Regions from separate parts of the Homo sapiens genome. Here region 1 is linked to region 2. Evidence: fine-mapped expression QTL. A gene starts in region 2. The other region holds a variant in brackets. All regions are shown on one strand. Distances are between the middles of the regions.

Region 1 (4,000 bases), 27 kb before region 2:
ACTCCTGACCTCAGATGATCCACCTGCCTCGGCCTCCCAGAGTACTAGCATTACAAGTGTGAGCCACTGTGCCCAGCCTGTTAAATACTTTTGTAGGTAAATGCCATTACTCCCCTTTTAGCAAGGTGAAAGTAACTTTAACCTTTTAACAAGGTGAAAGTAACCTGTCCAAGGTCTATATTTAACAAAAGTCAAAGCTACTTTTGTTTTTATCTTTAAAAGATAAGGACTCAGCCTGGGCATGGTGGCTCACGCCTGTAATCCCAGCTACTTGGGAGGCTGAGGCATGAGAATCACTTGAACCCAGGAGGCGGAGGTTGCAGTGAGCCGAGATCACACTACTGCCCTCCAGCCTGGGTGACAGAGTGAGACTCTGTCTCAAAAACAAACAAACAAAACAAATAAAAGATAAGGACTCTTTCTTCCCCTTGTCTATATTTTTGTTTTTGTAGAGATGGGGTCTTGAAATGTTACCCAGGCTGGTCTTGAACTCCCAGACTCAAGTGAAGTGATCCTCCCACCTTGGCCTCCCAAAGTGTTGGGATTACAGGCATGAGCCATGGCACCCAACCTATCTTTTTTTTTTTTTTTTTTTCAGACAGAGTCTCACTCTGTCACCCAGGCTGGAGTGCAGTGGCGCGATCTTGGCTCACTGCAACCTCTGCCTCCTGAGTTCAAGCGATTCTCCTGCCTCAGCCTCTGGAGTAGCTGGTAGCTGGGATTACAGGCGCGTGCCACCATGTCTGGCTAATTTTTGTATTTTTAGTAGAGACGGGGGTTTCATCATGTTGGTCAGGCTGGTCTCAAACTCCTGACGTTGTGATCCACCCACCTCGGCCTCCCAAAGTGTTGGGATTACAGGTGTGAGCCACTGCGCCCGGCCAGTTCTTTTTTCATTTAATGTTTTTAATTTTTTAAAATCCTGCCTCCAAGAAAGCTTTGGTTTGATTTTTTCTTTTTTAGAGACAGGATCTTGCTCTGTCACTCAGGCTGGAGTGCAGGGGCTTGATCATGGCTCACTGCAGCCTTGACCTCCCAGCCTGAAGCAATCATCCCACCTCAGCCTCCTGAGTAGCTGGGACTACAGGCGCAGGCCTCTATGCCTGGCTAATTAATTTTTTTTTTTTTGGTATTTTTTGTAGAGATGGGGTTTCACCCGCTTGCTCATGCTGGTCTCGAACCCCTGGGCTCAAACAATCTACCTGCCTTCGCCTCCCCTTTTATAGGGGTGGGGTCTTGCTATGTTGCTATGGGCTGGTCTTGAACTCCTGGCCTCAAGAGATCCTCCCGCCTCAGCCTCCCAAAGCACTGGAATTACAAGCATGATAACGTTATCACATCTCACATGTGGACAGCGGTTTCTGAATAAGTATCCTGGCCAACGTCATACACTTGGTTATCAGGATTTGGCCCAGGCAGCTGGTCCCAGAGTCAGCCCTTAATCCTCACATCACTCTGCCTCTCTGGGGTGGTGGGGTAGGTACATGTGCACCTGTCCCATCTCAGACGCCAGGCACTGACCCTACAACCAAGGCCCTGCTCTCTGGATGCTGCCAGAATGGCTCTGGTGACCCCAAACCTCATGGATGGAAAGTCAGAGGACGTGGGGTGGTTCTTACCTTGACAGGTGTTCTCGCTCTCATTCTTGAATGTTTTTGCCCCAGAAACAGGCTCATATCCCGGGCTGCACACGCAGTCGTAGCTCCCCTCTGTGTTCCAGCAGTCCGAGAATTTTCCGCATGACACTTTCGACGGTGTTGCACACTCGTTGATGTCTGGAACACAACAGGACAGGGAGTCACCTCCCAAAGATGTGAGTTCTGTCAGGGCAGAGACCCCCATCCTGACTCCCCAACATGGGGCCTGCTGCTTAGTATCTTTTGGAAAAAATCTTAAGTTGCACTGCACAGGCTATGCTGCAGCTGGAGCAAGCCATTCCTGAAGACCACACTTGATCTTAGTTCTC[T/C]GGCTGGCATCTTAGATTTGGACACAGTGAACAGTGCTGAGGTGAGGGATGGACAGGAAGCTCCACATCCCCATCCCCAGTCTCTTTGTAGAAATTTAAACCCCATGGCGGCCGGGTGCAGTGGCTCACGCCTGTAATCCCAGCATTTTGGGAGGCTGAGGCAGGTGGATCCCCTGAGGTCAGGAGTTCGAGACCAGCCTGGCCAAGATGGCAAAACCCCGTCTCTACTAAAAATACAAAAATTATCTGGGCATGGTGGTGCATGCCTGTAATCACAGCTACTTAGGAGGCTGAGTCAGGAGGATCGCTTGAACCTAGGAGGTGGAGGTTGCAGTGAGCCGAGATCGGGTCACTGCACTCCAGCCTGGGTGACAGAGTGAGACTCTGTCTCAAAAAAAAAAAAAAGGAAAAAAAAACCTCATAGCCAGAATGTACCCCCTCCCCAGTCTTAAGGGTAAACTGAGGCACAGACTCCAGATTCCTGAGCACCCAGCTTCTCTCTCTCCAGGAAGCCATGCCTATTCACTTCTTACTTCTCCCCCTTCATATTCTTCCCTTATTTCCTTCCTTCCTTCCTTCCTCCCTCCTTCCCTCCCTCCCTCTTCTTTCCCTCCCTCCCTCCCTCTCTCTCTTGTTCTTTTCTTCTCTTTTTTTTTGAGACAGAGTTTCACTCTTGTTGCCCAGGCTGGAGTGCAATGGCACGGTCTTGGCTCACTGCAACTTCCGCCTCCCGGGTTCAAGCGATTCTCCTGCCTCAGCCCCCGGAGTAGCTGGGATTACAAGCATGTGCTCATGGGCCACCACACCCGGTTAATTTTGTATTTTTAGTAGAGATGAGGTTTCTCCATGTTGGTCAGGCTGGTCTCGAACTCCCAACCTCAGGTGATCCGCCCGCCTTGGCCTCCCAAACTGCTGGGATTACAGGCGTAAGCCACCATGCCGGGCCTACTTTTCTTTCTCTTTCTCTCCTTCTCTGTCTCTCTCTTTTTTTTTTTTGAGACAAAGTCTTGCTCTGGTCGCCCAGGCCAGAGTGCAGTGGCGCAATCTCGGCTCACTGCAACATTCACCTCCCAGGTTTAAGCGATTCTCCTGCCTCAGCCTCCCGAGTAGCTGGGATTACAGGTGACCACCACCACCCCCGGCTAATTTTTTGTGTTTTTAGTATAGAGAGGAGGTTTCACCATGTTGGCCAGGCTAGTCTCGAATTCCCAACCTCAAGTGATCTGTCCACCTCGGCCTCCTGAAGTGCTGGGATTACAGGCATGACCCACCATGCCGGGCCTATCTCTCTCCCTCCCTTCCTCCCTTCCTTCCTTCCTGCCTCCTTTCCTCTCCCTCTGCCTCCCCCTCCCCTTCCCCGTCTCCCTCCTCATCCCCCTCCCCTTCCCCTCCCCTTCCCCCCTCCCTCCCCCATCCCCCTCCCCTTCCCCCTTCCCCTCCCCTTCCCCTCCCCTTCCCCCTTCCCCTCCCCCTCTCCCTCCCCATCCCCCTCCCTTTCCCCCTTCCCCTCCCCTTCTCCCTCCCCCTACCCCTCTCCCTCTTCCCCTTCCTCTCCCCCTCTCCCTCTTCCCCTTCCTCTCCCTCTCCCTGAGACACGATCTCATTCTGTTGCCCAGGCTAGAGTGCAGTGGTGCAATCATAGCTCACTGCAGCCTCAAACTCTTGGGCTCAAATAATCCTCTCCCCTCAGTCTTCTGAGTACTCCTGGCCTCAAACGATCTGCCCGCCTCAGCCTCCCAAAGTGCTGGGATTACAGGCGTGAGCCACCACGCCTGCCCTCTTTTTCTTTTCTCTGGCCATGATGATAGTCTGGAAGGTAAGGCTGTGGCCCCTCACAACAACCTCTGTCCCCCACTGGCTGGGCAATGCCTCATAATCGCGGATGTCCCCTGCGCTGCCCTCAAGCCTCTGTACCGTCACAAGTCTCCGTCGGGGTGGTGATGATCTCAGAAAAAGAGCTGAACCCTGGATTGCAGCGACAGGCGGTGGCATTGACACACGAGGAGTTCTGAGGGCACCACCGGGCACAGCCTG
Region 2 (4,511 bases):
TCCTGAACTCATAAATATTATTTTATTGTGATATTTTGTAAAAGTCAAGATTAATGCAAAACCATGATGAATAAAATGGTAACATTAAATCTATCTATCTATCTATCTATCTATCTATCTATCTATCTATCTATAGATATGTATATATATACACATAGGTCAGGCGCGGTGGCTCACACCTGTAATCCCAACACTTTGGGAAGCCGATGCAGGTGGATTGCTTGAGACCAGGAGTTCGAGACCAGCCTGGCCAACATGGTGAAACCCCATCTCTGCTAAAAGTACAAAAAATTAGCAGGTCGTGATACTGCACACCTGTAATTCCAGCTACTTGGAAGGCTGACGCACGAGAATCGCTTGAACCCAGGAGGCGGAGGTTGGAGTGAGTAGAGATCATACCACTGCACTGCACTCCAGCCTGGGCAACAGAATGAGACTCCATCTCAAAAAAAAAATATATGTATATATATATACACATATATGAGAGAGACAAGGTCTCACTCTGTCACCCAGGCTGGAGTGCAGTGGCACAATCATAGCTCACTGCAGCATTGACCTCCTGAGCACAAGCAATCCTCCCACCTCAGCCTCCCGAGTAGCTGGGACTACAGGTGTGCACCACCACACCCAGCTAATGCTTGAATTTTTATAGAGATGGGGTCTTGCTATGTTGCCCAGACTGGTCTTGAACTCCTGGGCTCAAGTGATCCCTCTGTCTCAGCCTCCCAAAGTGCTGAGATTATGGGCGTGAGCCACTGCTCCTGGCATACATTGTCCTAGTCTATTGTTAGAAGCAAGTTATTGGGTCCAGCTCACACTCGAGGGATCACACAGAGTGCAGACATCAGGAGGTGGGAATCATGGAGGAGTCTTGGAGCCTGTCTGCCTCACCTCCTCTCCTCTAGTATTCCTAGTTTTTTTTTTTTTTTCGAGATGGAGTTTTGCTCTTGTTGCTTAGACTGGAGTGCAATGGCAGGATCTCGGCTCGCTACAACCTCTGCCTCCCAGGTCCAGGTGATCCTCCTGTCTCAGCCTCCCAAGTAGCTGGGATTACAGGAGCCCCCTGCCACACCTGGCTAATTTTTGTATTTTTAGTAGAGATGGGGTTTCACCATGTTGGTCAGGCTGGTCTTGAACTCATGACCTCAAATGATCTGCCTGTCTGGGCCTCCCAAAGTGCTGGGGTTACAGGCATGAGCCACCAAGCCTGGCCTCTTTGCTGATTTTCATCTGTAACTTTCACTGTAATAAACCATAACTGGGAGTAACACCACTTTTCTGGGATCTATCAATCTCAGCAAATTATTGACCCTGAGGGTGGTCTCAGGGACCCCCGACACAAGCCCCATTTCCCAGCCACCATCTTTTGCAATCTCCATTGCCCTAGTCACCGAATGGCATATTCTTATCCATTTGCTATTTCCTGCCTCTCTCCTCTGGATCAAAGGCTCTGGAAGGTCGAAAACTCATCTGTCTTTCCCATGAAAGGCTGTAGAACAAAATGGTCAGGGGTCAAGTCCTGGCCCTGTCACTTTTTCATTGTTGCTGAGTCAAGGTCTCAGCCAGGGTGGAGTGCAGCAGTGCAGTCATAGCTTACTGCAGCCTTGAACTCCCGGGCTCAAGCAATCCTCCCACCTCAGCCTCCCTTGTGGCTGGGACTACAGTCACATGCCACCACAGCCAGCTATTTTTTTTCTTTTAAGACAGGGTGTCGCTCTGTCACCCAGGCTGGAGTGCAGTGGCATGATCTCGGCTCACTGCAACGTCTGCCTCCCAGGTTCAACTGATTCTCCTGCCTCAGCCTCCCGAGTAGCTGGAATTACAGGCATGCGCCACCACGCCTGGCTAATTTTTTTTTGTATTTTTAGTAGAGACGGGGTTTCACCATGTTGGCCAGGCTGGTCTTGAACTTCTGACCTCAGGTGATCCGCCTGCCTCGGCCTCCCAAAGTGCTGGGATTACAGGCTTGAGCCACCAAGCCCGGCCCCACACCCAGCTAATTTTTATTTTTTGAGACGGAGTCTTGCTTTGTTGCCCAGGCTGGAGTGCAGTGGCACGATCTCAGCTCACTGCAATCTCCACCTCCCAAGTTCAAGCGATTCTCCTGCCTCAGCCTCCGCAGTAGCTGGGATTACAGGCATCCGCCACTACGCCAGCTAATTTTTTTGTATTTTTAGTAGAGACGAGGTTTCATCTTGTTGGCCAGGCTGGTCTTGAACTCCTGACCTCAAGTGATCCGTCAGTCTCAGCCTCCCAGAATGCCTGAAGGTTAGCTTTTAAGTGTTGGTTACTTTATCTCCTCAGTAGCTAGATCAGGGTCCAGGTGGTCAGGATTCAGTCAAAAGCAAGTGATTAAGGAGACTCCTCTGGGGACTTTGCGATGGAGAGGCAGGAGGGGCCACGAGCGGGGGTGGGGAAGAGAAGAGGGCACAGAGGCCAGCGGATGAGAGAGACACCAGGGAGCCTGGGATGCCTGCCCGAGGCTCTGGCCACGCCCATGCCCTGCCTGTCCCGCTAAGGTGAGCTGGTCCTTCTGTGATCACCCGGGGAGGAGGCCTACAGGAGCTGCAGAGCTGAGTAGAGAGGGAAGGCGCGGGGGAGGCCAAGTCCCACGGGTCTGGGCTTCTAGGAGGAAACGTGTGGGAGGTTGGGACGGGAGGCGTGGGGGCGGGGGACAGGCAGGGCAGCTGGAGCCGGGGCTGTAGTCGGGCGCCGGCCAAGCCCCAAAGAAAGCCTGTGTTGGGCAGCGTCCGGTCTGGCCTGGCCTGGGAGGATGCCTGCTTGCTGCTGGGGGGCCCTGGAGATGCCGACGTAGCTCTGTACCCCCGGGAGGAATGTGACCCCCTCCCCACCCCCAGCCTCCAAATTTTTCCACATAAGGCTTCAGGGGTGCTCATGCCGCATGAGTTCAGGACAAAGGAATCAAAAGCACATGGACTGGATTCCCTAGGGAGGAGAAATTCTGGAAATAAGACGAAGAGGAGGACAAAGGGGCCCGGGGGCGGGGTGAGGGTGCTGGGACGGAAGCGGGGGGCGGGGATTGGGAGGCAGCCGGAGAAGGTGCCTGGCTCTGAGTGGCCTTAGACTGGGGACACATCTCAGCTGGGGATGAAGGCCACTGTGGCCCCGGACCGCCAGGGCAACTCCTTGGACCTCTCTGAGCCTTGTTCCTTCCTTTTTTTTCTTTTTTCTTTTTTTTTTGAGACGGAGTCTTGCTCTGTCACCCAGGCTGGAGTGCAGTGGCGCGATCTCGGCTCACTGCAAGCTCTGCCTCCCAGGTTCACGCCATTCTCCTGCCTCAGCCTCCCGAGTAGCTGGGGCTACAGGCGCCCCCCACCACGCCCGGCTAATTTTTTGTATTTTTAGTAGAGACGGGGTTTCACCGTGTTAGCCAGGATGGTCTCAATCTCCTGACCTCGTGATCCGCCCGCCTCGGCCTCCCAAAGTGCTGGGATTACAGGCGGGAGCCACCGCGCCCGGCCACCTTGTTTCCTTTCTTTTGGCCCAGATTCTTGGGGCAAAATACTTGGAGTCCTCCATGTCTCTGTCTCTGTTTTATTTTGTTCTCTCTTTCTGTTTCCTTCTTTCTTCTCTTTCTTCGTTCTCTGTCTCTCCTTCCTTCCTTCCTTCCTTCCTTCCCTCTCTTTCTTTCTTCTCCTTCCTTCTTTCTTTCATCTATCTCTGTCTCTCCTCCCTTTCTTTCTCCTTCCTTCCTTCCCTCCCTCCCTCCATTTCTTCCTTCCTTCCTTCCTTCCTTCCCTCTTTCTTCTCCTTCCTTCTTTCTTTCTTTCCTCTATCTCTATCTCTCCTCCCTTTCTTTCTCCTTCCTCCCCTCCCTCCCTCCCTCCCTCCCTCCCTCCCTCCCTCCCTCCCTTCCTTCCTTCCTTCCTTCTCCTTCCCCGGTCTCACTTTGTTGCCCAGGCTGGTCTTGAACTCCTAGGCTTCAGTGACCCTCCTGCCTCTGCCCCACAAAGTACTGGGATTACAGGCATGAGCCACCATGCCTGGCCTCTATCTCTGCCCCTGTCCCTTTCTCTCTCTCTCTATTGTATCAGCAAATCCCGAGAGCTCTATTTTCAAAATCTATCCAGCATCTACTCACTTTTCACCTCCTCCACAGCCCCTACCTGGTCCGGCCCCATCAACTCCCCCTTGGCCCAGTGCAGACTCCTCTGCCCTGGTCTCCTGGCTCCTGCCCTTGCTCGCCCGCTCCATGCTTTTCTGTCAGGGCACGTCCCTCCTCTGCTCAAGGACCCTCCAGGGCTCCCACCTCACTCAGTGCAAAAGCCAAATTCCTTCTTGTGGCCCACAGGGCCCTGCAGGATCTGCTCAGCACTTATCTGCCCTCACCTCCTCCTTCTCTCCCCTTTGCTCATTCCCTTCAGCCAGGCCAGCTTCCTCGCCGTTTTGGGCATGCTCCTACCTTAGGGGCTTTGCACGGCAGCTCACTCTCACTTGCAGCACCACCTCCTCCTCCAGATCCCCACATGGCTTTCTCTCGCCCCCTTCAG

The links.
Region 1: its variant is fine-mapped to the expression of LINC01841 in whole blood (TOPMed, PIP above 0.99).

Annotation. Positions count from the first base shown.
Region 1 is chr19:14,388,699-14,392,698 of GRCh38, reverse strand. It overlaps ADGRE5 (adhesion G protein-coupled receptor E5), which reads right to left. Exons shown (of 20, transcript NM_078481.4): 3 at 3,881-3,997; 4 at 1,620-1,775. Among named protein-coding and RNA genes, the nearest start is that of ADGRE5, 9.3 kb to the right of the region's middle. The variant T/C (reference allele first, on the strand shown) is at 1,967.
Region 2 is chr19:14,361,880-14,366,390 of GRCh38, reverse strand. LINC01841 (long intergenic non-protein coding RNA 1841) reads left to right here and starts at 2,401. Exons shown (of 4, transcript NR_134908.1): 1 at 2,401-2,519.